Linked DNA regions of Homo sapiens. The protein of the gene in region 2 interacts with the protein of the main gene of each other region in a pairwise test. Each region holds a gene or a part of one and is shown on either strand. Other genes may lie near its edges. The genes, in order: LMTK2, CDC25C, ERBB4, YWHAB and ROR2.

Region 1 (5,882 bases), on a different chromosome or scaffold from region 2:
TCTCTAACTAAATTCTTAAGCCAAAGAGGTTTCGTTCATATTCTCAGAGATTAAGCTGCTCTTGGAGGAGGTAAATCGAATCTATTTTTCATATATTTATTACTCTAAAAAGAAAAATAAGATTCTGCCAATATCATTATAATGCAGTTAGTACCACAAACATGGTATTTAGAATGTTTATGGTGGTATTTAATAGTTTAAGTGACAGGGAGAAAACATGGACAGAGTCCTTCCAGCTCATCTGTCTCTAAGAGGTCCCAAAGTTGCTCTCTCCTCCCCTCCCCACAACCCCAAAGATTAGGTACAGGAAGCAGAGGATCAAAAATCTATTAAAAATGCCCAGAAGCAATGAGCAAACCCAGCACCCAGATCTTGTTTTTTTTGTTTGTTTGGTTTTTTTTGAGACAATCTCACTCTGTCACCCAGGCTGGAGTGCAGTGGTCCGATCTCGGCTCATTGCAACTTCCATCTCCTGGGTTCAAGTGATTCTCCTGCCTCAACCTCCCGAGTAGCTGGGATTACAGGCGCACACCACCACACCTGGCTAATTTTTGTATTGTTAGTAGAGACGAGGTTTTACCACGTTGGTCAGGCTAGTCTTGAACTCCTGACCTCAAGTGATCCGCCCACCTCGGCCTCCCAAAGTGCTGGGATTACAGGCATGAGCCACTGCGCCTGGCCCAGATCTTGGTTTCTCATATCACTCTCCAATCAGAGGAACCAGAGCTCCTTGAAGAAAAGGCTGATTCTAGGACTGGGGCAGGGAATATACAAGATGAACCTGTAGCTTCTTGAAATGCCAGAAAATAAGGAAATGCTTAAAAAAAAAATGAGGATATGTCAGCGGGGCACCCAGGAGCTAACTGAAAGAGCTCTCGATGGCCAAAGCTGGTACAATGTAAGAACAAATAAACAACACTGTGGAATCAACTCGAAGTATAAAATAAATATCCATGCATCCACACTGACATAAGTAAATGCTTGAATAAAGAAATAAACAGAGGATCGCATGGGCCCGGGAGTTCAAGGCTGCAGTGAGTCATGACTGTGCTACTGCACTCCAGTTTGGACTACAGAGCAAGACCTGTCAAGGAAAGGGAAGGGGAAGAGGAAGAAAAAAAGAAAAGAAGAGAATACGCGAGTCTCTTCAACAGAACTCCAAAGAATGTCTACAGACACTTCCTTGCAAAGAGGTGGAGCACAGCTTGCCACTCATTAAGTGTTGACCCTGCACTCGTACACCATGGGGAGGGGAGGACAGAGTAACTTTACAGGGTGAAAGCTGACAAACACTACTCAGCCAGGTGATCAAGTGACAAGTCATGCTGTGTGATGTTGTGTGCACACACCCTTGATGTGATGTGATGAGAATGGCACTTTAACTCTGTGGTCTTCCTCCCAGAAACCCACACCCCCAGTCTAATCGTGAGAAAAACATCAGACAAATCCCAGTTGAGGGACATTCTACAAAATATCTGACCAGTCAGTACTCCTCAAAGCTGTCCAGGTCACTCTAAACAAGGAATGGACTGGGGGAGCCCAAGGGGCATAACTACTAAATGTAATGTGGTTTCCTGGAAGAGAAAAAAAGACACTAGAGAAATATTAAAGAAACTGAACAAGCTGTGGACTTATTTAATAGCAATATATTAATACTTGTTCCTTAGTTGTGACAAATGTACTACATTAATATAGGATGTTAACAACAGGGACTGGGTAAAAGATACACAGGAACACTCTGTACTATCTTTGCAATGTTTCTGTAAATCTAAAATTGTTGTGAAAGAAAAAGGTTTTAATAAAAAAAAAACTATAAATGGCCTCATCCCAGGTGAAGGTCTGTGGCTGCATGGGAAGTCAAGTCCGCAAGAGAATGAGAGGCTTCAGCTCATACCCTCTCCTTCACACACACACACGCGGACACAAACACACACACACACGCACAAACACACGCACATGCACACACACACACACAGACACACACTGAGGTACTGGTTTGGAGAACTTAGTTCTCTAGTATCATCTTCATCATCCTCAGTTACAAATGCTGACAGAGCATCTACAACCTGTGACATACCATCCAAACACCAATCCCAAAAATGTGCTATCCCAAGGATATAAGACACGGTCCTTGCAAACTAGGTAAAGAGACAGGACTTAAACAATGATGTAGGCCGGACACTGTGGCTCACACCTATAATCCCAACACCGTGGGAGGCCGAAGCCAGAGGACTGCTTGAGGCCAGGAGTTTGAGACCAGCCTGGGCAACATGGCAACTTTACTTTTGTAGACCATCTCTACAAAAAGTAAAAATTGGCCAAGCATGGTTACATGCGCCTATAGTCCCAGCTACTCAGGAGCTGACATGGGAGGACTGCTTGAGCCTAGGAGTTCAGGGATGCAGTAAACCATGACAGTTCACTGCACTCCAGCCTGGGCAACAGAGCAAGACTTTGTCTCTTAAACAAACAAACAAAAAACCAATGATATGAAGATATAAAGTGGTATTTGGTATTTATTAAGTGCAAGTAGTAGACTGGTATGATGAAACCAAACCTTTCTTTTTTTGCTTTTTTTGAGATGGAGTCTTGCTCTGTCACTAGGCCTGGGCACAGTGGTGCGATCTCAGCTCACTGCAACCTCCGCCTCCCGGGTTCAACCTCAGCCTCCTGAGTAGCTGGGACTATAAGTGCCCGCCACCACACTCAGCTGACTTTTTAGTAGAGACGGGGTTTCACCATGTTGGCCAGGATGGTCTCAATCTCTTGACCTCGTGACCCGCCCGCCTCGGCCTCCCAAAGTGCTGAGATTACAGGTGTGAGCCACAGCACCCGGCCCAAAACCAAACCTTTCTTGATTTCAGCCAGCAGTAATTTCTCTCTCCTCTCTCCCGCCCTCCCTTCCTTCTTTTCTTTTTTTCTTCTCTTTCTTTCTTCTTTCTTTTTCTCTTTCTTTGAGTCTCGCTCTGTCGCCCAGGCTGGTGTGCAATGGCATGATCTCGGCTCACTGCAACCTCTGCCTCCTGGGTTCAAGCGACTCTCCTGCCTCAGCCTCCTGAGTAGCTGAGACTTTAGGAGTGTGCCACCATACCCAGCTAATTTTTGTGTTTTTTAGTATAGACGGGGTTTCTCCGTGTTGTCCAGGCTGGTCTTGAACTCCTGACCTCACGTGATCCACCCACCTCGACCTCCCACCGTGCTGGGATTACAGGCATGAGCCACTGTACCCAGGCAGTACATTTTATGTTCTTTCCGTCCCATGTCATTTATAAATCAAAAAATGTGTTAGTGTACCACACATTCTATACCTTAAAACATCACATAAGTTGACCTTTTAAGAGGATGAAATGAGAATAAACATCAGTTCCAATGTTTTCGTCTGGCACCCCATGAAACATCTTGCTCCACAGGTATACACTCTCAAGTTCACCAAGGGAAGGAATCTCTAAGGGCTGGGCCAGGATCAATAACTCAGTAGGGAAGGTGGGTCCGCAAAGAGGTTTTAAAAAAAATAAAAAGATGGCAGCACTTACAGAAGCAGGAAAAGAGGCAATTGCAAACAGGGAGAATATATGGAGAGCCAGAAGATGGGAATTTGCATGGAATATTTTGCAAGCGATAGGCAGATCAAGTTAGCTCTGAAAAAAGTGCTGTGGAGGGTGGAGGCAGGAACAACAACAGATGCGCTGCAGCAGACACCCCGATGCGACCGTCTCCCTTCACCAGATGCAGGGAGACAGGGGCTACTTTAGCCATAGCACAAGGTCCTGCACACCTAATTTGACCTGATGGTAACTCAAGCCTTTTAAAATATTAAAACTACCCAGGTGCAGTGGCTCATGCCTGTAATCCCAGCACTTTGGGAGGCTGAGGTGGGAGGATCACTTGAGTCCAGGAGTTTGAGACCAGCCTGGGCAATATAGTGAGATCCCATCTCTATAGAAAAAATATGTTTTACATCAGTCAGGCATGGTGGTATCCACCTGTAGTCCCAGCTATTCAGGAGGCTGAGGTGGGAGGATCGTTTTAGCCCAAGAAGTAGAGACTGCAGTGAATATGACTGCACCACTGCATTCCAGCCTGAGTGACAGAACAAGACCCTGTCTCAAAAAAAAAAAAAAAAAACTTTAAAAAAACACATATAATAAAATGCAAAACCTACCTACCAAATTGTCAAAAATTAAACAGAAGGTTTACCACCACCACCCCCTCCTACCAAAGGCCCAGGTGGGCAGAGGAATACAGAGTCACTCTTTTGTGGTTGGGGAAGGAAAAAAAGGCAGAGAAAATGAAAGATACTGATCAATGCTGTGGCTGCGGGTACCTGAGACATCTGGCATAAATAGTGCTCACTTTTCCCACCTGAATCACAATACAATAAATGACATTTGGAATCACTGCACTGAGCTAACTTTTGCAAAAAAAAAAAAAAGAATTTAATAATGAGGTTACTTTTCTGATATGCCTGCTCTTTGTGACAAACAATTGTAATGCCAAGGCAGGGCTCCGAATTAGCCACTTGCTACAATTTTAAAAGACATCAATCCAATATTTTGCTCTGCAGACATGCTAATTTTACCATAACTTCCCCAGTTTTCTGCAACAGTATCTTCATAAGAAGATTCAAAGAAAAGCTGATAATGGAATCTAAAATCCCTAGAGGGAGCAGTCTTCTAGATCAGAGATGGTTGTCCAGCATCTCCTCCGAGAATATTCCTTCCCTCATTTTAGTAAATACAAAGTTTTAAAACAGTAATAAAGCACTGCTAGTCGACTATAAAAGCACATGATTTTAAATGAGAAAGGGCCAGGTGCGGTGGCTCACACCTATAATCCTACCACTTTTGGAGACTGAGGCAGGAGGATCACTTGAGGCCAGGAATTTGAGACCAGCCTGGGCAACACAGTGAGACGCCAGCTGTATTAGTCCATTCTTACAGTGCTATAAAGAATCGCTCAAGACTGGGTAATTTATCAAGGAAAGAGGTTTAATTGACTCACAGTTCCACATGGCTGGGGAGGCCTCAGGAAACTTATAAACACGGTGGAAGGGGAAGCAAACATGTCCTTCGTCACATGGCAGCAGGAGAGAGAAGTGCCAAGCAAAGGGGGAAAAGTCCTTACAAAACCATCAGATCTTGTGAGAACTCATTCACTATCACAAGAATAGCATGGGGGTAACCACCCCCATGATTCAACTATCTCCCATGGGGTTCCTCACACGACATATGGGGATTACGGGAACTACAATTCAAGATAAGAATTGGGTGAGGAAACAGCCAAACCATATCACCATCTCTACAAAAAAATAAAGTGGGCATGGTGGCACACACCTGTAGTCACACACCTACAGGTAAGTGTCTGTAGGTGACACACACCTACTCAGGAGGCTGAGGCAGGAGGATTGCTTGAGCCTGGGAGTTTGAGGCTACAGTGAGCTGTGATTGTGCCATTGCACTCCAGCCTGAGTGACAGAGCAAGACTGTTTTTCCCTGAAGTCTCTTTCTTCTGTTCTGCAGTGGGGAGCTGAGGTTGTGCTACCTCAGTTCTCATCTCTTCACCAGCAAAAACTCCACAATTATTTTGTCTTTTCTTCTTTCTTTTTTCAAAGCCCTCTTCTCACTTCCCTCACCCTTGTAATGGGCCTAGATTTGGGAGTTCACGAAGAATCAGGATCATGATCATAATTATAATCACAGCTGGCCTTACATGTCCTAACCAAGGACTGGGCACTGTACCTGCCTCACACCAGCCCTGTCCCACAGAACCTTTTTCCATAATGGGAAGTTCTCTTCTGTGCTGTCCAATGCCGTAGCCACCAGCCACCTGCAGTTATCAAGCCCTTAACTTGTGGCCAGTGCCACTGAAGAACTGAAGCTTTC
Region 2 (5,882 bases):
CACTCCAGCCTGGGTGACAGAGCAAGACTCTGTCTCAAAAAAAAAAAAAAAAAAAAAAATTAGCTGAGTGGTTGGGCACGGTGGCTCACACTTGTAATCCCAGAACTTTGGGAGGCTGAGGTGGATGGATCACGAGGTCAGGAGTTCGACACCAGCCTGACCAACACGGTGAAACCCCGTCTCTACTAAAAATACAAAAGTTAGCTGGGCATGGTGGCAGGCACCTGTAATCCCAGCTACTCGGGAGGCCGAGGCAGGAGAATTGCTGAAACCTGGGAGGTAGAGGTTGCAATGAGCCGAGATCGTGCCACTGCACTCTAGCCTGGGTGACAGAGCTAGACTCCATCTCAAAAAAAAAAAAAAAATTAGCCAAGCATGGTAGTCAGCACCTGTAATGCCAGCTACTCCAGAGGCTGAGGCAAGGAGAATCACTTGAACCTGGGAGGCGGAGGTTGCAATGAGCCGAGATCATGCCATTGCACCCCAGCCTGGGCGACAGAGTGAGACTCTGTCTCAAAAAAAAAAAAAAAAAAATCCAAAGAAAACGGAGACAATTTTTGTGACCTTGAGTTGGCAAAAATTTATTAGATACAATGCTTAAAAATGGATACAGACTGGGCGTGGTGGCTCATGCCTGTAAACCCAGCACTTTGGTAGGCCAAGGCGGATGGATCACTTAAGCCCGGGAGTTCGAGACCAGCCTGGACAACATGGTAAAACCCTCTCTCTATAAAAAATACAGAAATTGGCTGGGCATGGTGATGCGCATCTGTAGTCCCAGTTACTCAGGAGGCTGAGTTGGGAGGATCGCTTGAGCCTGAGAGGCAGAGGTTGCAGTGAGCTAAGATTGTGCCACTGCACTCCAACCAGAGTGACAGCGAGACCCTATCTCAAAAAAAAAAAAAAAAAGATAAGTTTCAATTAGCTAATTAATTCCAAACTCTTAGTAATATGGCTCTTAGCATAATTATTATGGTGTGTTCTAGAGAAGCCCCTTTTGAAATCCTCATCTAGCTTTCCCCTGCCTTCTCAGGGGAAAATTGAAGTTATATGAAGTCCTGTCTGTCATGGAGACCAGGCACCCTACTCCTCAGTGCCTCACCATATCTCCTTTCCTACCCTACCTTTGGTTGATCCATTCATGCATCACTGGCTTCGTGGCCTTGACTGTATCTCTTGGCTTCTTCCTTTTGGGCTTTGGCTTCTGCTACTGCCTAATTATTTCTCCATCTTCCAAGTTAGGCAACCAAGAGAGGGAACCTGATTGGCCTAGATTATTTTTGCTTATTCTAGACCACTAAATAGATGTGTTCAACCAGCAATATGGTCCAGTCATCAGTGTCTGGGGGGTAGGGTGGATGGGGACATAGGGCGATGTTTGGAAGGAGTCTAAGGGTACGTATAATGTGGACGGTACCATCAGCTGGTATCACGAACAAGAGGTAGGACCATGTGTGTGATAAACAACATAATATCCATAGCTGTCATAAAGCAAAATGTTGTTATTCTTATTTCGTTCTTCCAGAAACCATTGATCATCAAGCTGCCTTCCAGTTATGGCTCTCTTATTGTATAGCCCCCCTCCTAAATCAGTCCATAACAGGTAGTGCGATAAGTGTTTAGAGAAGGAGCTTTTGCCTGTTCTCTAGGTGAGAGGTAGAGATCTCAAAGTATGTGGCAACAGAGGATAGAATTGTGGATTAGTTGGAAGGTGTTATCAGAGGTCATTTGATAGACCCTCAACTCTGAATATAGCACCCAAACCATGCCTTTCAAATAAACAACAGTCTATCCTCTTATACTTTAATCTGTTCCTGTGTAAGCAATTCTCAAGGCTAGTTCTTCATGACGTTTGAGCCACTTTTTTTTCCCTGATGGGTTTCATAGTATCCATCCTATAATGGTCAGCATGCTATTTGATTTTAGTGTGTCCTTTTTTCTTGCATGATGCTTCTTTTGCTATTTTTCTTCTTGGCTTTTCATCTTTAGGTTTGTTGAGGTCCTTAAATCCTGATTGTCAATGTCCTAGGATCCCAGAGACAAAATGGACTTATGTTTTTTTTTTTTTTTTTTTTTTTGGTCACATAACTGGAGGGACTGAGCTTGTGTTTGCTTTCTGTTAGAAGAACTGGTGCATCTAAGACAGTCAGCTGCAGAATTTGGTTTGGCTAGTTAAGACGTCCATGGAGATGGAATATCATGCAGTCCAGGTAGAAAGATATTAACGGGCCTATGAAGACAGGTTGCCTACCCAAGGCTTCTCAAACTTGAGAAATCACCTGGGCATCTTGTTAAAATGCAGATTTTAATTCAGTAGGTTTGGGGTGTGGCCTAACATCTGGAAACCTGCATTTCAAAGAAGCTCCCAGGAGATGTTGTTGCTGCAGGTCTGCAGACACACTTGGAGGAGTAAGAACTAGGGGGTTTAATATTCCCAAACAGGTGAGCAGAAGTGGCCTATATCGCTCCCCGTCGATGCCAGAGAACTTGAACAGGCCAAGACTGAAGCAGGTGGAAAAATTCAAGGACAACACAATACCAGATAAAGTTAAAAAAAAGTATTTTTCTGGCCAAGGAAAGCTCAGGAAGGTAAGAACTTTTTAAGATGAAAATCTTGTTCATCTTCTATCTCATGTCTTTGCTTTTCTGGTATGAGGATTGTTTTATTATGCCTTTTTTGTCTTCTTCCTCTTTACTTTTACTTTTTCCTCTTTGTTCTTTCCATCTTTCTGTCTTTTCTACATCTGTATCCACGTGAAATATATATATATATATAAAATATTTATATAACATAGATACATAAAGTATATCTATATTGTACTTTTAGAAATGTTGTCATAGGCCGGGTGCAGTGGCTCACGCCTATAATCCTAGCACTTTGGGAGGCCGAGGCGGGCGGATTGCCTGAGCTCAGGAGTTCAAGACCAGACTGGGCAACACGGTGAAACCCCGTCTCTACTAAAATACAAGAAATCAGCTGGGCGTGGCAGCATGTGCCTGTAGTCCCGGCTACTCAGGAGGCTGAGGCAGGAGAATCGCTTGAACCCGGGAGGTGGAGGTTGCAGTGAGCCAAGATTGTGCCACTGCACTCCAGCCTGGGCAACAGAGCAAGACTCCGTCTCAAAAAAAAAAAAAAAAAGAGAAATGTTGTCATCATACCGTCTTCCCAACCCTTTTTCTTAAGATCTGAAAGAATACAAGGGAACTTTGGTATGGATATTTTACTGCTGTTTTACATGCAGTCTGACAGAAACAACATCATATAGCAGGTTGGTTTTGTGGAAAGCAACTTCTGAAAAACTTAGCCTTTGTCCTTTACCCTCCCCAACTTTAAAAAAATTAAATAGATGGGAGGATCACTTAAGGTCAGAAGTTCAAGACCAGCCTGGTCAATATAGCATGACCCCATCTCTAATAAAAAAAAATAAAATAAAAAATTAAAATTCTAAAATCTTTGGATATTTTATAAAATCAACTTATTTATTTATTTATTTATTTTCCCCTGAGATGGGGTCTCACTCTGTCACCCAGGCTGGATTGCAGTGGCATGGTCTTGACTCACTGCAGCCTCAATATTTATTTATTATTAAAAATAATAAATAAACAAATGGAGTCTCACTCTGTCTCCCAGACTGGAGTGCAGTGGTGCAATCGTAGCTCACTATAGCCTTGGCCTCCTGGGCTCAAGTGATCTCCCTACCTCAGCCTCCCATGTAGCTAGGATTACAGATGTGCGCCACCATGGCCCACTCCATCCACTGGTTTTTAAACCTTTAACATGAGGATTGGGTGTGGGGTGGGAATCTTGTCATCTTCAGGGCTTATGTTTAAAGAAGACAGTCTCTCTGTGTGACATTACTATCACTCAGATGCTGGAGGAAGATTCTAACCAGGGGCACCTGATTGGTGATTTTTCCAAGGTGAGTTTGGCTACACCCATCCTGTATTTCAGTGAGTCATTTTGGATCTGAATCTTCTCTGTTTGCCGAGAATGCCTGGTGTAAATATGCATCCTCACCAAGTACTCTTTGGTAACCTGACAGTGCTCTAGTGGTAGATCCAGGCCCTAAGCCTTTCCAGAGAGAAAGTATTTCTTATTCTTCTGGGAAGATCCAGAACAGGGGAAAGTATGAGACTTTTTACCTTTTTTCTGTTTAAAAACATATTTTAAAATTATGTAAATAATACTTGGTTGTTACAGAAAAAGTAGAAAATGAAGAAATTTATCCCAAACTTTATTAACCAGGGTAATATTGCTTAGTATATACTCTTTTTTTCCCCCCTACTGTCTGTGTAATTGCAGAAGGTACATATTCTTACAGATTTTTTTCTGTGTTTTCACAAACACATATACAAATACAGTTTTTGCTTTTCTACAAAAACAGTTTATATTGTTTTGTTATCTGTTGTTTTTCCTCTCATTTAATAATTATATCAGGGGCATCTTTTTTCATATTAATAAGCAGTTATGCTTCATTCTTTCTTTTTTTAAGATTCAAGGTCTTGATCTGTTGCCCAGGCTGGAGTACATTGGCATGATCATAGCTCACTTCAGCCTCGAGCTCCTGGCCTCAAGAAATCCTCTCTCTCCTTGGCTTCCCAAAGCACTGAGGTTACAGGCATGAGCCACCATGCCCAGCCCATTTCATTTTAATAGCTCCATATTATTTCTTTTTTTTTTTTTTTTGGCTGCTCATAATTTCTTCATAAATCCCTTCTTGTAAGATATTTGGTTTTACAATTTTTTCTTATGAATGATACCAAGATGAATATATTTGTAGAGAAATCTAAAACTTCGTACACATCCTTGATTTGTTCTTTAGGATCAGTTCTTAGAAATGGACTTGATGTATATGCACTTTATAGAGACACTGATTTTTTTGAAGGCCTCTGGGGTTTTAAGGGTCACTTGGAAAGAAGGACAAAATAAGGGTCTTTGATCTCAAACTTGGGTGTGGAATACTTGCTGTTATTTCAGCTCTTGTGTATTTCTAGGTATGTGCGCTGCCAACCGTGTCAGGGAAACACCAAGATCTGAAGTATGTCAACCCAGAAACAGTAAGCAGATTTCTGGAGATGGTAACTGGTTACATAAGCTACCATCTGGTCTCTTCTGTCCCTAAAATGCCCATTTCCATTTGTATTTCTTTCACTGTGTTCACTCACACAGGCTCCTTATTCAACTGAAGTTATATTGAAGGACTCATTTTTTTCCCCATTCTTCTCTCTCCTTCGTTTTTAGTTAAACAAATGATACATAGTTTTTGTAAAAGGGAAAAAGGGAGGGGTCAGGCATGGTGGCTCACGCCTGAAATCCTAGCATTTTGGGAGGCTGAGGCAGGCAGATCTCAGGCACTTGAGGCAGGGAATTCGAGACCACCCTGGCCAACATGGCGAAACCCCATCTCTAATAAAAATACAAAAAAATTAACCAGGCGTGGTAATGTGTGCCTATAATCCCAGCTACTTGGGAGGCTGAAGCACAAGAATTGCTTGAACCCCAGTTGGGGAGGTTGCAGTGAGCAGAGATCGTGCCACTGTACTCCAGCCTGGGCGACACAGCGAGACTGTCTCAAAAAATAATAATTACTTAAGAAAAAAGGGAGAAAGAAAGGAAAATAAAAAATCACACACAAGAAATGGTCTCAATTAAGGTCTCAATTAGGGTGACCATGCACCCTCGTTTACATTTTACAATCCCATTTTCATCTATTAGTGAGGGTAATTATTAATAGTGTTTGCTTTCATTCTCAAAAGTCTCCCAGTTTGTACAAAAATTATTTGGTCACCATACCCACAATCTCATCACCAGAGATAACCACTAGTCATATTTTCCTATGGCCTTCCAGATTTTATTTTATTTTTAGACATGGAGTTTCGCT
Region 3 (5,882 bases), on a different chromosome or scaffold from region 2:
GCAGCATTGCCTTACATTTTCTGGTCCTTCTCTAGCTGTTTCATTCTCCTGACCAACCCATGCAGAGAAATGAAGAAACATTGTGGTTCCTCCTATCTTTCTCTTTCAGTCTTTCCCTCTAATGTTCAAGTTAGGTAAGCACATAACTATCATTGCATCTCTGTATCTTCCACTGGGAAGTGTCAAAACTACTGGCCTTGGGGTAGAAGGAAGACCACCAGAGAAAGAGAGGGGGGTGGGGAAATTGGAGCAGGTGTGTCTCTCCACCTAAAAAACCACAACTGAGCTTACACCACAGTATTCCGGTGTCTGTAAGGTGGAGGCGGCAGCACAGTGCCTGGCTTCAGGGAGAACTCAGAGAGGTATTCAGGATTCTCTGCCACAATAGGCCGGATCCGCCCATTCTGTTTATAAAAATATTTTGTGCTGTACTCCTGCAGGTAGTCTGGGTGCTGAAGGGTGCTCCGAGGTGGCAGGCTGTGGTTCCAGTAGTCAGGGTTGTCAAACGCTTTCTTGGCCTTCTCTGGCATTGACAGTATGTTGTTCTTCAGGTACTCAGCTTTTCCCAAGGTGTTGGCAAAGGTGTTGAGGTACAGTGGCTCATTCACATACTCATCCTCGGCCTTGGGTGGACCATTGGATGCATTGTGATATTCGGGATTATCCAATGCTTGAAGGTCTCCATTTTTTCTCCGAGAAACAAAAGGGTTCTCCTCCACTGGATTCAGGTATTCTAAAGGAATAAAAAAATATCAGCTAACCTCTAGTTTCTGGAAAATATTAATCAGACCAAGGTTATACATAATGGTTAGCTTCTTTGTCTAGAACAAAAAAACCCACAGATTTGTTTTCATGATTTCTCACAACAAGTATTTGTGGATCACCATTGTCTTATGAAAAAAAGAGTAAGTGGGTCAAAAATGTTTATAATAAAACAAGAAGCCAACGAGGCCAGAATCAGAATTTCTATCTCCTAAATTTTTCTTTCTTTCTAATTGCATTTGTCTCTTCTGCATATGGGGCTGGTTGTTTCAATGTTTTTGTTTTCTAAAAGTTATTTATATTAGGAAATAAGACTACCTATTAGGATTAAATAGTCTTTAAATATACAGACAACTTAACTTCTATAAAGGATATTGAAAAAACAAGAATCTATAGCTGAGTTCCATGCCAAGATGAATAGATGGAGTGAAGAAATCATGTTTTTTAGTCTCTATGGTTTGCTATGATTGCCTATACTGGTAACAAGGATTTAATTGGAGATGCTTCTGAAAAAGGTTTTACACATGGAAAAGAAAGCATCAAAGGAAAAAAATTCAACTAAAAAAGCAAATCTAACAGATAGCTAACATGCCTCTAGTTGACCTGCTTGACATTACATATACTTCTACTTAATAGTAAAGTATAATTATAATATTTCCATTGACCAATCATAATCACAAAGTAGCAAACTATCAGCTTGAATTATATAAAATAAAATAAATTTTGTATATTGAAACCAGTCAATTAGTGCCTATTTTGTACGGATCAATCTAATAAATCCATCTAGTATAGGTATTGGCCTAAAAGGTGCTAATAATTATCACCATTCTCCTGAAGCTTAATTCCACATCTATGTCTATAATATAGACTGCACATAGACATAAACACGCATGTATTGTAAGTCCTCTGACAGTCCTCTCTTTTACTATATACACAAAGCCCTAAGCTATTCCTATTTTGAATTCAAGGCATGAAGAGGGCACAATTCTTTGTTGAGAGGCCATTCTGAAACAAACTTTCTGTCTTTTATCCTTAGCCCAATAAGTAGAGAGAAAAATCCTATTAAGTGAGGATTATTTTTCTCCAAATATATATATACAGAATAGGTAAGTATTTAGCATCATTTATTCAACTTAAAGGGCAGTAATGAATATCCCACTATCATATATAGGCCTTTACAAGACACTATCATTTCATCCTCCCAATTCTGTGAAAAAGAAGTACAAGACTTATTTTTCCAGCTTTGTAGACAGAAAAATGAGATTAAATGATGTGTGCAGGATACAATTAGTGTTGGGATAGAATTCAGGTCTTCTAACTCCTCTTGCATAATCTTCTTATTCTACTGCACTGTTTTTTATTATTGCCCCTGCAGGAGTTGGGTGAACTTTATGCTTAGTAACAAGTTTTAATTTGACAAGTGTATGAAAACATTTATAAGGAATGCAGAATTTGGTCTCTCTTACCAGATTCCTTAAACTTCTTAATTGAAAGAATAGGAATGTCTACACTAAAATTCTGTACTCTCTGAGTACGAGGTTAGACTATAGCAACCTTTTATAGAAACGGAGCTTAGTGTTCAGAGATAAAATCTGAGAATACAGTGTGACTCTATAGGGTGACTTGCTTTTCTCTTCACCTTACCTTTCCTCAATGCAATCTACTTATATATTGTCCTCATGCAAACTTATATAGCTGTCCAATAACTTTACGGTTGGAGTGAAAATCTCCCCAGAAAAGATTCTTCTTTGGGGTGAATCTGCCAAGTCTTCACAACGTCTACATTTGTGTCATTACTAGGCTACTATGAGCATCCAAACTCTTCATTACATTTTTATATGTATAGAAGTTTTAGATATGTAAAAATTTTATCTAGACAGATATATTTTAAAAGGTTATTTACAATTAGAGATCTCTAAATTTTACTTTAAAGGAGAGAACATAACCATATACCAGGCCCTTCTCAGAGTCTTAAAATGTAGTTTACTGTTGACACTAAAGACTGCGAGAGACATGATCATCATTTTTTAATAACAATCATCTATCTTCTCTGTTGTGATACTGTTAGCATAGAAGAAGAAAGGCTGTTTTGTTGCAAAATTGAAGCATTATTTGATTTGGGTGCTTAACATTTCTACTACTAACTTTACAAAATTATTGTTATGCTTTGTAAAACCACAGATTATTATTTTCAAATCTTGGTGGTATGCTTGTAAGTATATACAGGGTCAAACCTTTAATTTTTGAAAAACGTCATATAAGAACATAATATTTTCCTATAATAAACTAGGTTGTTTAAATGTCATCATTTAAATGAGTCAAACAAATCTTTTATTAGTGCCATCAAAAGCATCAGGCACTTTTGCCAACAATACCAGTCTTTCTGATCTCCGCAATTAAGTCCAATAAAGCTATGGTCCTGACACTTTGTAGTATGCTACTTCATTCAAATATTTCAACAAAATATGTTTAGAATAGTGCTTCTCAAGACTGATTGCTGTATGCAGATAGCCTGGGGATCTTGTTAAAATCCAGATTCCTATTCAGACGGGGCCTGCCTGAGATTCTGATTTATATAAATAATAATAAATAATGTGGATGCTGCTGATTCAGGGACCATACTACAAGTAGCAGTAGCCTAGGCCTTTACTGGATCACAAATGTTGTGCTGGTCAGCTATCTGGCAATTTCTATTCTGTACTTTGTTTATCTTGATGGAAGTGAACTTCGAATGGCGATCGTTTCTGAATAATCAGTTCATACCTTGTTTGGGTTTGTCTCGCATAGGAGTCATGTAACCTTCCTCATCCAGCTCTCCTCGTGGGCTCCGTTCTGGGGCAAACACGGTGGGGTCAGCACTGTACCTCTGGGTGCTACTGTCCTCTTGGACATGGGGTGCCACTGGCTTGCGTAGGGTGCCATTACAGCAGGAGTCATCAAAAATCTCAGCAGTAGCACCCTGTGCCACAGGAGCTTCTGGAATTGTGCTAGTTGGGGCTCTGTAGGGCACAGACACTCCTTGTTCAGCAGCAAAACCTCCATCTCGGTATACAAACTGGTTCTGTTAATAAGAGAAACATATGTGGAGAGAAGGCGTTGTTAGAAATAGTTTAAAAATGAATGTTAATAGCCACAAGGATATCAAAGCCAGTCTTTCAGAGAATAGTCATAGTATTTACTGGTTTTTTTTCCCCTAGTGGCTAATGGAGTTACAAACTATAAACACCTAAAATTTCCACTTTTCTTAAAAGATAAATCATCAGAAAATAATTTTGAAATACACATTCTAGTTTTATTAACCAACTGAAACATATTCTAATAAAATGTATTTGATGCCCTTTTCCCACAAGTGCCTATATTTAATACAAATTTCAAAGTGAATTTTTATGATAAATGCAAGTGTCATTAATTATAGACAGTTGTCATTAAGAATAGAAGTACATGGATATATTTTGAATAATCCTATGTCTTTATTCCCTTCGAAAATTCTGTGGTTATTATGAATTTGAGGCTCTAGTACCTAACTAGAGGATCATCACTATAATTCTGACTTTTTAGTACATGACCAATAATCAGGGAAGTAAAGATCACCTCCACATCCAGAAGCATAATTTATGTGCCCAGGTAAATCCTTCAGATAAAAATTGAAAGCTACTGTTGATGCATGATATCTCAATTTCGGATTATCAGCTGAGATAAAAACACATCTACAAAGGCAGCTACACGATGTACACCAAATTCTTAACTCACTGTTGGCAAAGGCAAAATGAGGAAATTATGCAGAGACGAGAGAGGAAACATGGTAAGCAAAGACCGAAAATCCTAAAAGATGAAGGTTGATTGTGAAATACTTACTCCTGACATGGGGGTGTAGGCAGGAGGAGGGCTGTGTCCAATTTCACTCTAATAGGAAAGAAAAATGGAATGATGGATATAATAAGAGGCAATATGAATGAAAAAATTAAAAAAAGAAACGAAAAAGAAAAGCCACATGGGTCGTATGAACCAAAGGGGAAAAAGTGCACAACAGTGAAGCTTCCTAAGCAGCACAATTGTATGCATTCTGACCATAAGCAAGCTTATTTATATGTTTTGAGGAAAATAAATATTTTAATTCAATCCCTGAAAAGGAAAATTGTACAGAAAAAGCAAAATTTTTCAATGGATTAGAAAAGTAAATAATAAACATTCTTCTGATTAACCCTAGAGGAAAGGAAAAGTAGTAAATGAACTATAGCTGTAAATGGGAAACAGTTTCCTTCTTTACATGTCAAAAGATTGAAATGGCCATATTGTCTGCTGTTATTTTTTCTCTTAGAATAAATGTTTCTGGAAGGAGATGGCAGGAGATTTCGATTTGCCTGGACTAATTTTTGCTATCAAGCTACATTTATTTTTCACCACTTCAGCAAAAGGTAAACTCCTTAGTCTCTCCTGATTAAAAGGTATATGCTATTTTATCTTCAGTCTCACATTTTTTTTGTTTTTTTTTTTTAAGTTAAGAAAGAGCAGAAAATTTGGAAAATCAATTCCTTTCCTGAAAACATGCTTTAGATTCCCCTTATGGTATTTATAATGAGTCAAAATCAGATTTCAGTTAAAGAAACAACAACAAAAATACATCTGTATTTTTATAGCTTAACGCTCCATCCTATGGGCTAACTGAAAGAGGATATAAAAATCTAATAAAAGATGAAGGACAGTGTTCCTTAGGGTAAGGAAAAGGAGTTGTATAATACTAATTCTGTTTCTTAATACAAAAATACATTAAACACATTTTTTGAGAACCTACTGTCTATGTGCCAGGCACTTTTCTAGGCACAGGGATAATGCAAAACACAGACCCAAATCGCTTGATTTTATGAAGCTTATATTCTCTGCGATCCAGCTTTAAGTAAACAGAGATGACTAAAATAAACCTCTAAGATACCTTACATCTTGTTTGTTTGTTTGTTTGTTTGTTTGAGATGAAGTCTCGCTCTGTCACCCAGGCTGGAGTGCAGTGGTGCAATCTCGGCTCACTGCAAGCTCCGCCTCCCGGGTTCACGCCATTCCCTTTCCTCAGCCTCCCGAGTAGCTGGGACTACAGGCACCTGCCACCACGCCTGGATAATTTTTTG
Region 4 (5,882 bases), on a different chromosome or scaffold from region 2:
TAAGCTCACAATCCGGTGTGGGAGCCAGCAGAGACACTTGCATTGCAGTAAACTGTGATAAGGGCCATTTTAGAAATAAGCATAGGGAAATTGTTATGTGCCTTTCTTTTAAAAGTCTTTAAAGAAAGCAGAGTACGTGTAAAATAAATGAGGTACATAGTAAGTTTCCCTTCACTGGCTGACCATTGGTTTTTTAAGTTTTGTGTGGAATGTACTGTGGTTGCCATTTATTTGAGTGCTTACTGTTTTATATCATAAACAGGTTTACTCCTTACAGGAACCCTAGTAAGTAGATTTGCCTATGTTTTTTTTTTTCTTCACAGAGTCTTGCTCTGTCGCCTAGGCTGGAGTGCAGTGGCGTGATCTCAGCTCACTGCAGCCTCTGCCTTCAGGCTGCCTCAGCCTCCCAATTAGCTGGGATTACAGGCGCCTGCCACTATACCCGGCTAATTTTTTTATATATTTAGTAGAGACGGGGTTTCACCATGTTGGCCAGGCTGGTCTTGAACTCCTGACCTCAAGTGATCACCCTCCTCGGCCTCCCAGAGTGCTGGGATTACAGGCGTGAGCCACCACGCCCAGCCCAGATTTGCCTGTATTATGGATGAGAAAACAAATTCACAGAGGTCACATAGCCTGTGGACTTGGTGTGCGGTACTGGTAAATCAGACTGATAGGCTTCATTATGTCAGTGGGCCCCAAACTGTAGAAATTATTCATAAGGTCAACCAATTGGGCTGTCTTTATGGATCAGAATTAACATAGTGTCTTTTGGATTGATTACTTAAGCCAAGAAGTCAATTTATTGTCATATCTACCATTAAGTCACATGTGTAACCTTGCGCCTGTCACTTAACACCCTCAGTAAGTTTAATCATGGCTAATTGGACATAATTAGCAATGATATGCAACAGCTGATGTGAAAGAGGGAAGGGATTTTGAAATAATAGAAATGCAGTTTCTCTCCAAATTCAGTGTTCACTGGACTTAGTGCTAATGACTTTGTATTACAGATATGCTGTGTTTTGTTTCCTAACAAAGAACCTGCAAATGTTTGAATGGAATTAAATTTATTACAGGACTCTAAATTTTATATGTAGAATGGCACACAGACAGTTTTATAGTGGGTGTTTTTTAGTGAGTAGTTTTCTCTGAGAGCCAGGAGTGTTTAACTTTTTCTGGGTAACACCCACTAACCACCTGGTCCCACTGACTTTCTCAGTCCCTTCTGCAGTAGCTTGGCATCTGATTTTTCTTCAGCAGAGAGACTCCAGAACTAAAACTTCTGCTGTACAGTGCTGTGGATGCTCTATCTGGAATGGTACATCTGTGAATGCTGTTCAGAATATGTGATCAGTTCCTTACCCCATTGAAACATTCGAGCCTAGATTTTTCAGATTTTCTTGTCAGTTTTCTTCCTTATTCTCATTTCTTTATCTGCTTTGGCCTTTGATTTTTATCTCATCTAGAAAAACATACATGCACTTTATTAATAACATCTCTTTTTAAGTCACGACCTAGCTACCTTTAAACCTATTTCCTCTAGTTCTGTCTGGTTGGCTTTCTAAGGAGAGGCATTGTAACCCTTAAACGTGTGCTGTTTTTTTTTTTAATTGATGTGTAATAGATATACATGTGCTCTTTTCTTGTGTTTCTACCACTAGAGTTTAAGCTCTCTGAGGGGAGGACTACACTGCTTTCTTTTAAATTCCTCTCAATGAATAATCCAAAGAGTTCTTAGAAATTTGGTAGTTTTTCATTTTGTTAGTTATTTCAACACACATTGGATTATATGTGTTACATTTTTGTGAGGTAGCTTAAGAATAAAAAATAAGAATGGCTTATGAGCCTTTACTCTAACCAGCACTATATGGGCATTTTATGTTCATTATCTTATTTGATAGCTATTAATGTCTCTTTTTAACACTGAGAAAACAGATTCAGGTAAGTTATAATGTGGAAATGTAGAAAAATCACCTACTTTCTCTTTAGAAGCTCAGATGTGTATGTAAGGCTTGCTAAAAGCAGACCCCACCGTATATTTTATATGTATAGAGCTTGGGTAATTCCTGACATATAATAATGGAGTCTTCATCTGAAATTTCTAACAAATTATTAAATTCAAAGCTTATTATTTTCGAATCGAGCATGTTCTTTGCCTTGAAAACAAAACATAGCTGAAAGCCAGTGCTTCTAAAGGCCACAGCTGTCATTTTCAACCCTTTCTGTCTTTGCACTGCCTTTATTTAAAAAAAAATGGATTAGCAGTAGGTAGTCTTCTTTTTCTTTTCTTTCTTTCTTTTTTGATTCTTCTCCTAGGATATCTGCTCTAGCCACTGGGAAATAACTTCTCAGTATTTTGACCCTGACTAGAAAGATGTCCCTTGGGGAAGGAATTGGGATAGAGGGGCTAGGCTGTTTCCTAGATCCTCTATTTTCAGCATTTATTATCTGATTTAGGATTTTGTTTCTTTGAAGAAAATCCTATTTTGTGAGTACCTTTAGAATTATTTTTCATAGCTGTTTATCTGCACTAGTGGTTTCTCTTTAAACAGAAAAACACTTTTTTTCTTAAAAAAAGAAATAGTACCCAATTTTTAAAAAAGTAATACATACTTGAAGAAAATTTAAAAAGATAGGAAAATGAGGATATAATAATGTTATTACCCAGAGACAGAACCAGTGTTAACCATTTGGTGTAACCTTTCTGTTCGGGTTTGTTTGTTCTTTAGGGGATATTTTACAGAAATAAAATATTGTGCAGCCTCGTCCCTCCAGCCCCCATTGCTCTTAAATAAATCTTTTCATGACATTAAATCTCTTCTTTTGATGGCCACGTAATCTTGTACCATCTATCTCCTTCCCTCCCCTGCCTTTTTTTTTTTTTTTTTTTTTGAGACGGAGTTTCGCTCTTGTCGCCCAGGCTGGAGTGTAGTGGCGCAGTTTCGGCTCACTGCAACCTCCACCTCCTGGGTTCAAGTGATTATCCTGCCTCAGCCTCCCGAGTAGCTGGGATTACAGTCATACACCACCCCGGCTAATTTTTTTGTATTTTTAGTAGAAACGGGGTTTCACCACATTGGCCACGCTGGTCTCGAACTCCTGACTTCAGGTGATCTGCCTGCCTTGGCCTCCCAAAGTGCTGGGATTACACACGTAAGCCAGTGCACCTGGCCAGTCTCCTTATTTTTTAAACCATTCCCATATTGTTGGATATTTAGATTTGCTTCCATTTTTTCACTAAGCAATCTCTGCGTTTATCAACAAATGCTTCCCAGTCCTGACTTGCTGCATCCAGTGGCTTAGAACAGATTGACAGCCATCATCATCATATAGGTGTGCTGGAGAGCTCCTGTTCTCAAGCACGTCAGTCTCTTCCTGAAATATGCCCAGCACAAGGAAAATCTCTTGGCTTACTGCAGGGTTGGGCCTTTTGTGGCCTCTAATGAGTTTGCCTGCGCCAGTATCTTGATGCTTCTGCAGTGGTGCCAGGCCTGACGATGAGACTATAGTCTTTCAAAAACTTTTTAGGAGACAAATAAAGAGTATCTTGCTGACTTTTTTTTTAGTGGGAACCTCATTCAAAGTCTTGGAACAACAGTAGGTCTTGATTAAAAACCATCATGGCATATCACTAGAAAATTCAATTAGAAACTAATGGATAAACTTCAGTTACATTTAACATATATGTCCATTTTAACATAACATACTAACTATCTGTACAAGATTAATCTAGACTTTTGCTTTTCCTTCTCACAAAATTGTATATTTAAAAAGAAAATTCAAGCTTATGGTTTTATGGGCTGCTACAGTGTAATAGTCGTGGAGAAGAATAATAGTACTTCAGTTTGATTTTGCACTATGCATTTTTCAAGGAAGATTTCCACATTTAGTATTCTTTAATTCCCTGCGCCTCATCTTCACAGCAACTCTACTGAGGTAGATGCCATCTTCATTTTATGGATTGGAAGGCTGAGATTTAACATGCTCACATGGCTGTATAGTGGCACATTGCGCTGTGACACACAGTCCTGCTGCCTTCCGACTATACTACATATAGGTACTCTGTGTTCCTTGTGCTCTCCCAATAATGATTTGTAGAAAAACTTGATATTCATTTGCATATGAGTTTTGTGCTTAGCACAGTTATAAGCATTAAATGTGAAACAAACATGAAGCTTTCCTTTGAGGGCACACACGTGAAGCTGTAAGTGGTACAGTACTCATCTGTATCACAGAATGGCATAAAGAAGTCCTAGACCATGTAATAGGCTATAAGTATATTCAGAGTCATAGGCAAGGTAAATCAGTGAGGGCTAGGGCAGTCAGGGAAGGGTTTGTAGCCCTAGAAGAATGGGTGGAGTTCAGATAGGCAGGCAGTAAATAGGAGAGCACTCTAGATGAAGGGAACTACAAAAGCAGTTTCAGACACGTTTGAGCATTGTGTTTATAGGGCATGTGGTGCTGGCCAGCCTGAGAGAAAGGTACATGTTGGAGAACAGTGGATGAGAAAGCCAAACAAGTAAAGAGGAGACAATTTATCAGGAATTTGAAAGCCAGGTAGAGCTTAAATTTGATGGAGTAGCCAAAAGGGAGTCATTGGAAGTTACTGAGTAAGGACAAAGGCAAGACTAGAGGTAATTTAGGAAGAGTAATTTTTTGTTTGTTTTGAGACAGGGTGTCTGTCACCCAGGCTGGAGTGCAGTGATGCAGTCATGGCTCAGTGCATCCCTGGCCTCCTAGCCTCAAGCGATTCTCCCATCTCAGCCTCCCAAGTAGCTGGGACCACAGGCATGAGCCACCACACCTGGCTAATATTTTATTTTTTGTAGAGACAAGGTCTTACTATGTTGCCCAGGCTGGTCTTGAACTCCTGGTCTCAAGCGATGCTCCAGCTTTGGCCTCCAAAAGCACTGGGATTATAGATTGATCTGCCATGCCTGACTGGAAGAGTGAATTACTCTTTGAATTTCAGAGGGCACAGAAATTCAAGAAACTAGGTACAAATGTAATGAAGATTTAATATGCTTGTGAGGCTAATAGGTGCTTTGAATTATTTGAGAAAAGGGAGAACTCTACCAACTCTGCAGTTTTATGCTTACATTTCAGGATCAGTTTGTTCATTCAGCAGATATTTGTTCCTACCAATTATGTACAGGATGCTGTGGGAGATATGTCCAAAGGAGCTTATGGTGTAGGAAGGGAAATAGGAGACACTATGTAAGTAATTTTAGTACTGAAGAAACGTGGTAAGACATTGACAGGTATCAGCGAAATGCTTTGTGAGAATATATTCATTAGAGCAATGCCGTCCCATAGGAATAGAATATAAGCCACATGTAATTTAAATTTTTCTGGTAGCTGCATTTAAAAATTTTTTTAAAGTGAAATTGATTCTATCTGTTTTTACTTAACCCATTATGAACAAAATATGATTTCAATATGTGGCACTAGCCACATTTTAAGTGAATAGCCACATGTAGCTATGGCTATGGCTTAAACAGCTTAAGAAAGGCTTCATGGAAGGGATGGTATCTGAGCCACACTGTGAAGAATCTTGTATGCAGAGTAAATTTGGGAAAAGCCATTCCAGGTAGAGGGAGTGGCTTGGTGAGCAAAGATAGAAAAGCATACTTTGTATGTAAGAAAACCATTTTGGCAGAAGCACATATGATGTGGAAGGCATGATGTGGGGGTCTGGAAGATAGGTTGGCAAGCTTTCACTGATAGGGGAGGAAATCTGACTCTGCTTTTGGCATCAGGGAACTTTAAAGAATTTTGAGCGGGAAGTGACTTGAGCAGAGTTATAGGAAAATGGGTCTTACAGCAAAGGCATGGAGGGGGCTGTAGATAATGAGTGACTGAAAGCATTGCCACTAGGG
Region 5 (5,882 bases), on a different chromosome or scaffold from region 2:
AGCAAAAAAGCACCTCTAACACAGTTCTGTCCTACAACCTGCTTTTGTTCCTTACAGGGCACAGGGCCATCCTTCATTGCAGGACAGCTTTAAGGTCTGGAGTGCTCCAGAGTGCCTAGACCGCAATTTGAATGACTGATAATTTCATTCTTAAAATTTGTTCTCCCATAATGAACACATTCTTGAAGATTTGTGTCTGATCTGCTGAGCCAGAGGCAATGCCAAATCTGGAGCTGCTGAATCACACATCAGGAAGGTCATTAGTGCCAGTGTTTATTTCCTGCACTTCGGAGTAGAGACACGCGGGCCTGCACCCCAGGAGGAGATCTCCAGGTGCATGGTGAGCCCAGCCTCGCTTCACCGGCTGCTCTCTCTTTATCCGCGGGTGCCCACTCATTCACCAATTGCTGCTTCCAGCTCCCAGCCCAGCCTTGGTTACCCTGCTGCCTGGACTGGTGAACCGGGCATGACTAAGACAGAGGTGAGAACTGTCGAAGCTGTCAACCATCAGCCACGTGAGCTTCCATATTCATGACATTACAGACACACTTGCAAGGAATGAGGACAAGCAATGAATTCTATTTTCGCCTCACTCCACCAAACCTAAGTGTAAAATCTGAGAAGCAGTGAAAAGCTCAAAAGCTGGTGGGTGGAAGGGAAATATTTTTACGAATATTAGGAACTACTGAGCAATAATGGTGTTTTTTGTTTTTTGTTTTTGAGAAAAGGTCTTGTTTTGTTGCCTAGACTGGAGCGTAGTGGCACCATGATGGCTCACTGCAGCCTTGAACTACTGGGCTCAAGCAATCCTCCCACCTCCACCACCCAAGTAGGTGTGCCACCACGCCTGGACAATTTTTGTATTTTTTGTAGAGACGGGTTTTTGCCATGTTGCTCAGACTGGTTTCAAGCTCCTGGGTTCAAGAGATCCACCCGTCTTGGCCTCCCAAAGTACTGGGATTACAGGTTGTGAGCCACCGCACTGGGAGATAATGTTAATGGAGAAACAAAATGTCAAAGTGAATATCCCAGGACCATCCATACATGGGAAAAGGGCTGATGGAAGGGGGTGGGCCAAAACGCAAACAAGTCACTACTGGGTGGTAACATTAGGGGTGATCTGACATTACTCTTCAGACTTTTCTATATTTTAAAATGTCTTGTAATGGTCAGATGTTACTTTCATAACAACCAATAACTTGCGTTATTTATTTATTTATTTTTGAGACAGGGTCTCACTCTGCTGTCCATGCTGGAGTGCAGTGTCACAATCTTGGCTCACTGCAACCTCCGCTTCCCAGGCTCAAGTGATTCTCCTGCCTCAGTCTCTTGAGTAGCTGGGATTACAGGCATGTGCCACCGCACCTGGCTAATTTTTGTATTTTTATGGGGTTTCACCATGTTGACCAGGCTGGTCTTGAACTCCTGACCTCAAGTGATCTGCCCACCTCGGCCTCCCAAAGTGCTGGGATTATAGGCATCAGCCACTACGCGTGGCCCAACAGCTTTATTTAAAATGGTCACTGTGGTAAGATCAGGGGTCTCTGGTCGCCACCGTACAGAGGCACACCCCAACCCAGGTCAGGACAGAACGCCCTCATCACAAGGTTCACTCAACAATCAACACATTAAAAAAAGAGAGAGAGAATACATACTACACGAGGGTACGTCACACAGTTCCATGCGTACGTTTTTATTCTGCGTAAAGCACCAGGGGCCCTCCATCTGGCCTCCGGGGTTCCGGCAGTAGGCGTGCCCCCCTCCAAGCTCAGGGAAGTCTGTGCTGGACAGGTGGTGGCTGTGGGGGTGCTGCAGGGCCCACGGCTGGCACTGGTGGCCTGACTTGGTGGTGCTTGCCGTTCCTCTGTAATCCATGCCTGAGCCGTTATAGCACTGATGGTCTGAACAAGGAAAACACGTTAGGAAAACCTCCGGGGTACAACAAAACCATTCTGCCTACACATGCCCAAACTAGAATTTCCAAAAGATCCAAGGATTTTACATAACTTACCAGAAAAGAGGCATTAAAAGTAATGGCTTAATGAAGTCCCAAGCCCACAAATTAAATGCAGGGCACATCAGGGATAGGCATGGGGAAGGAAACTTGTCTAAAGTTATTCCACAGCCCCAGAACCATCTCTTGGGACCCACGAGGCACCTGCACACCACCACCCCACCAGAATGGGGATGTCTCCCCAGCCTCAGGATCAACTTGCTCTAGGAAGAAAGCCAACTGTGCAAGCAAGAAGGGCCTGGCCCCTCCATCTCAGGACACCCTGCTCAGCCATGGGTGAGAACAGTGCAGGCCACGCCACCTCCATGGAGGAACCCTGGGGTTGGGGTGTGCATTTGGTGAACATTTCTGTAGTGTTTACCATGTGTGGGGCGCTGCTCTAAACCCTCCTGGCTGGGGCACCGTGGCTAACAAGGCGGGTGGATCACTTGAGGTCAGGAGTTCAAGACCAGCCTGGCCAACATGGTGAAACTCCGTCCCTGCTAAAAATACAAAAATTAGCCAGATGTGGTAACGCACGCCTGTAGTCCCAGCTACTCAGGAGGCTGAGGCAGGGGAATCGCTCGAACCTGAGAGGTGGAGGTTGCAGTGAGCCAAGATTATGCCACTGCACTCCAGCCTCAGTGACAGAGTGAGACTCTGTCTCAAAAAAACAAAACAAACAAAAAAACCACCTTCCTAAATATTGCCTCATTTGACCTTCATTTCAGCCCCACGGGTTAGTACTGGTGTCATCCCCACGGAATATAAGGATATGAGAGCTTAGCAACTTGTCCAGGGTCACAATGAGGGTCTGAATGCAGGCAACGGGCCCAAGGACCAGGCCCTGGCTGGTCCTGGTAAGGAGTCCTGGCCATTCCTGGACCCCCAGATTAGCCAACGATGCTAAATACAGCCCCGGAGCTGTGGCGGAGGTGGCCCGTTCCCTAGGTCTCACTCCTCAGGGAGGCAACAACCCGTATGGATGCAGTGATGTCAGCCAATGGTTTTCCTCGGAGACATAAGCAGCGCTCCCTGTCCTGTGTCTGCCATCCTGACTGGCCATGGCCACCCTGCTGGGGCTCACAACTTGGGGTTTACTAAGCCTCCAGAGGGCAGGGGCTGCTGCCAGCAAGAGGGGCAGTGGGGAGCATGCTCTTCGTCCTGTGCAGACCCCAAACAGGCCACACCCAGGCCCCGGGCTCAGAACTGTCCCCCTCCCCCACGCTCATCCCTTAGGCCCCACGATTCAGGGACCTGTAGAAAGGTGCACGGTGCTTCCCTGTATTTCCTTCCCTAGTGATGCCTGATTGTTACAGGTTCTTCTCAGGTGCCCTCCCAGGCCAGTCCTGCAGCATCTCCGTGGGCCTCACATTCATCCAAGGCTAAGGATCCTACAGGTTTCTGGGGACTGATCCTCCAGGTTTCAGGAGGTTGGGGCAGGAGTTGAGAGTCTGCATTTTCGCCTGGCGGCCCGAGTGCGTGCTGACCGTCGGGCAAGTTAGGAAGCTGGCCCTGTCTCCTCTCATGCCCGCAACAGCCATTTCCACAGGAAGTGAGATCACTCCCATTTCAGAGAAGGGAAATCCCAGGCTCAAGCAGGTGGAGGGACTTCACCTGAGTCCCACAGCTGGACACAGTGCAAGCCCACATGCGAGCCTGGGGCTGAATGGCTCCAAAGCCCCTGATCCGAGGCCCCGCCTGCTGCCCTGCTGGAATGGAGGCCTAGGCTGTGGGGCCCTCGGCTGCTAAGGGGGTTCTGTGGGGCCTGGACAGATGGGGCTCCCTGGGCTTCACCGACACCCCCATACACATTTCAAGGGCCCTACACTCCCTGCGCCCCCCGGTCCCGCCCCGGGCCCTCGGGCACTCACAGCGGCCCAGCCTCTCGGCTGGGATGCCAATGCGCATGCAGTTGGCAGCGTCGGGGCTCTCAGGCATGGGCAGCGCCTCACACTTGGGCAGCTGAAGCCGCATGAGGATGAGCGGGTTGGAGCGGGCGATGGTGTACTCCTGGCGGCACAGGTCGCTCTCCAGCACCTCGCACTCGTCGCGGCACAGCTCACGCGGCTTGGGTGTCCGGGAGCGCGCGTCGCACAGAGGAAACACGAAGTGGCAGAAGGATGGGATGGCGAACTGTGAGCACTGGTCCGACAGGTGCGTAGACGTGCCGATCATGGTGAAGGCCGCTGCAGAGCCCGCGAGACTCGCGTTAGCGGGGGACCCACCTTGCGCCCTTGACATTCATCCAGTCCCCACCCCCAGCCTGGCATCCCAGACTGCCCACTCAGCCCCCTGATGCCCCGCCCCGCCCCAGACTCCCCAACCCCGAGCCCCGCACACCACCCTGGAGAGGCTCCCCACCAGCAGGCCAGCCTGCCCATCACCTGCTCTGATTTGCAGCAGTCACAGAAAAGTCCCTGGTCCCAGGGCCTCACTTAGAAACATCAGAAGCAGAACAAGAAAGAAGGAAAACTCGGCCCCCTAGCTCACTCCGCTAGGTGCTTCTTCCAGGACAAGAGGGTTCAGACTTCAGATGCAAAAGCAGATCCTAAGGACCCGCCATGTGTGGAGAGCGCAGGCCAAGAAGTGCAGTACCGAGCCCCAGGCTTCCCAATGTCCCAGATCTGTCTGGGGAGAAGGCTGTCCCGGAAGAGGGAGTCAGCTCAGCTCTGTGAACTGCAGCTGGAGGAGACAGTTGGTAAAATGCGGAAAGCCAAGAGGGTGAGAGCAGCAAAGTGGGAGGAGAGCCGCGTTACAACTCTGGAAGGTTCTGTGATAAGGGGGAGCAGAAAAACCCGAAGATCCAGAGCCCCCTTTGGTAGGGCGGTTTGTTTTTTAAGGGCAAGATGTCAGAGGATGCAGTTTGGTGGTTAGAAGATGGGGTGAGTTCGGGAACAAAGTGGGGGTGTTGGGGAGAGATCTGCTGCACCTGGGGTGCATGGCTGGACACTGGTAAGGGTGAAGAAGCTGGCCAAGGCAGGGCTCTAAGGAATGCATCAGCCTGCCCTGGGCTCACTACCCCATTTTCACCTGTGAAAGGCTGGCTTACAACAATTGAGCTTGGGGACAGTGGAGGCAGACAGGCCCCTTTGCCTGCACACCCAGCAGAGGCTGTGTCCTCCAGCGTGGCAGAAAACCCAGAAGCTGGCATTTAGTCCCTGAGGAGCCCTAACTCCACCCACGAATGCAGTTCAATCCCATCATTACAGATTTGGCGATTATTTGGTGATTATACAGAGGGCTGTCAAGAATGCTGGCCTTGACCTCCAGGCAAGGAAAGCGTGTAAGTGCTGTGCCAGGTTTGGCCAGCAGGTGGCAGTGCCGCTGTCAGTCATTCCCTGGGAACCCACCCAGGAACGGGATGGGCAGCTGTGTGGGAACAGCCTTGTGCGTGATCACTTTGTGGTATCACTCATGCCTTTCCGGGCCTGTTTCTGTACCTGAAGAGTGATTTGAGACCCCACACTGGGGAATGAGAGTGCACACAGAGCCTATAAAGTGGCCCTCAGCGTGAATGGGCCCAGGGGTCTGGTAAAAGGCGGCGTCAGTGGGCGGGAGCAGCCACGCTGTCCTGATTGTGTGCAGGCACTACTGTGCTCATCACATCACCTCCCCTCCTCTGGGTTCCTGTGGCCGATATTTAAATGGAGGAACAGAGAGGGCAAGCAGTTACAGTACAGGATGTCTTGGATTTGGAGGAAGAACTGAGGCTTCAACCCTGTTCAATCCCATCATTACAGATTTGGGATTATATGGATGGCTGTCAAAAATGTAGGTAGGCCTTGACCTCCAGGCAGGGAAAGATTGTCTAAGAATGCCAAAGCTGTCACTTCTCTTGGGCTAATCCACTGATAGGATGTCTCTGCTGATCTTTATAGGATTTCTC

The links.
Region 1: the proteins of CDC25C (region 2) and LMTK2 interact in a two-hybrid assay, tested with the Homo sapiens proteins (one study listed by BioGRID and IntAct).
Region 3: the proteins of CDC25C (region 2) and ERBB4 interact in a two-hybrid assay, tested with the Homo sapiens proteins (one study listed by BioGRID and IntAct).
Region 4: the proteins of CDC25C (region 2) and YWHAB interact in binary tests that used the Homo sapiens proteins (3 or more experiments, as listed by UniProt).
Region 5: the proteins of CDC25C (region 2) and ROR2 interact in a two-hybrid assay, tested with the Homo sapiens proteins (one study listed by BioGRID and IntAct).

The regions. Positions count from the first base shown.
Region 1 is NC_000007.14:98,112,484-98,118,365, reverse strand, and holds part of LMTK2 (serine/threonine-protein kinase LMTK2 precursor), read right to left. Parts: intron 1-5,882. UniProt on the Homo sapiens protein: Phosphorylates PPP1C, phosphorylase b and CFTR.
Region 2 is NC_000005.10:138,288,677-138,294,558, reverse strand, and holds part of CDC25C (M-phase inducer phosphatase 3), read left to right. Parts: intron 1-2,442; coding exon 2,443-2,589; intron 2,590-3,818; coding exon 3,819-3,920; intron 3,921-4,995; coding exon 4,996-5,058; intron 5,059-5,882. UniProt on the Homo sapiens protein: Functions as a dosage-dependent inducer in mitotic control. Tyrosine protein phosphatase required for progression of the cell cycle. When phosphorylated, highly effective in activating G2 cells into prophase.
Region 3 is NC_000002.12:211,383,328-211,389,209, forward strand, and holds part of ERBB4 (receptor tyrosine-protein kinase erbB-4 isoform JM-a/CYT-1 precursor), read right to left. Parts: intron 4,666-5,882; coding exon 4,618-4,665; intron 3,824-4,617; coding exon 3,526-3,823; intron 734-3,525; coding exon 288-733; 3' UTR 1-287. UniProt on the Homo sapiens protein: Tyrosine-protein kinase that plays an essential role as cell surface receptor for neuregulins and EGF family members and regulates development of the heart, the central nervous system and the mammary gland, gene transcription, cell proliferation, differentiation, migration and apoptosis.
Region 4 is NC_000020.11:44,890,821-44,896,702, forward strand, and holds part of YWHAB (14-3-3 protein beta/alpha), read left to right. Parts: intron 1-5,882. UniProt on the Homo sapiens protein: Adapter protein implicated in the regulation of a large spectrum of both general and specialized signaling pathways. Binds to a large number of partners, usually by recognition of a phosphoserine or phosphothreonine motif.
Region 5 is NC_000009.12:91,729,255-91,735,136, forward strand, and holds part of ROR2 (tyrosine-protein kinase transmembrane receptor ROR2 isoform 1 precursor), read right to left. Parts: intron 4,183-5,882; coding exon 3,868-4,182; intron 1,902-3,867; coding exon 1,656-1,901; intron 1-1,655. UniProt on the Homo sapiens protein: Tyrosine-protein kinase receptor which may be involved in the early formation of the chondrocytes. It seems to be required for cartilage and growth plate development. Phosphorylates YWHAB, leading to induction of osteogenesis and bone formation.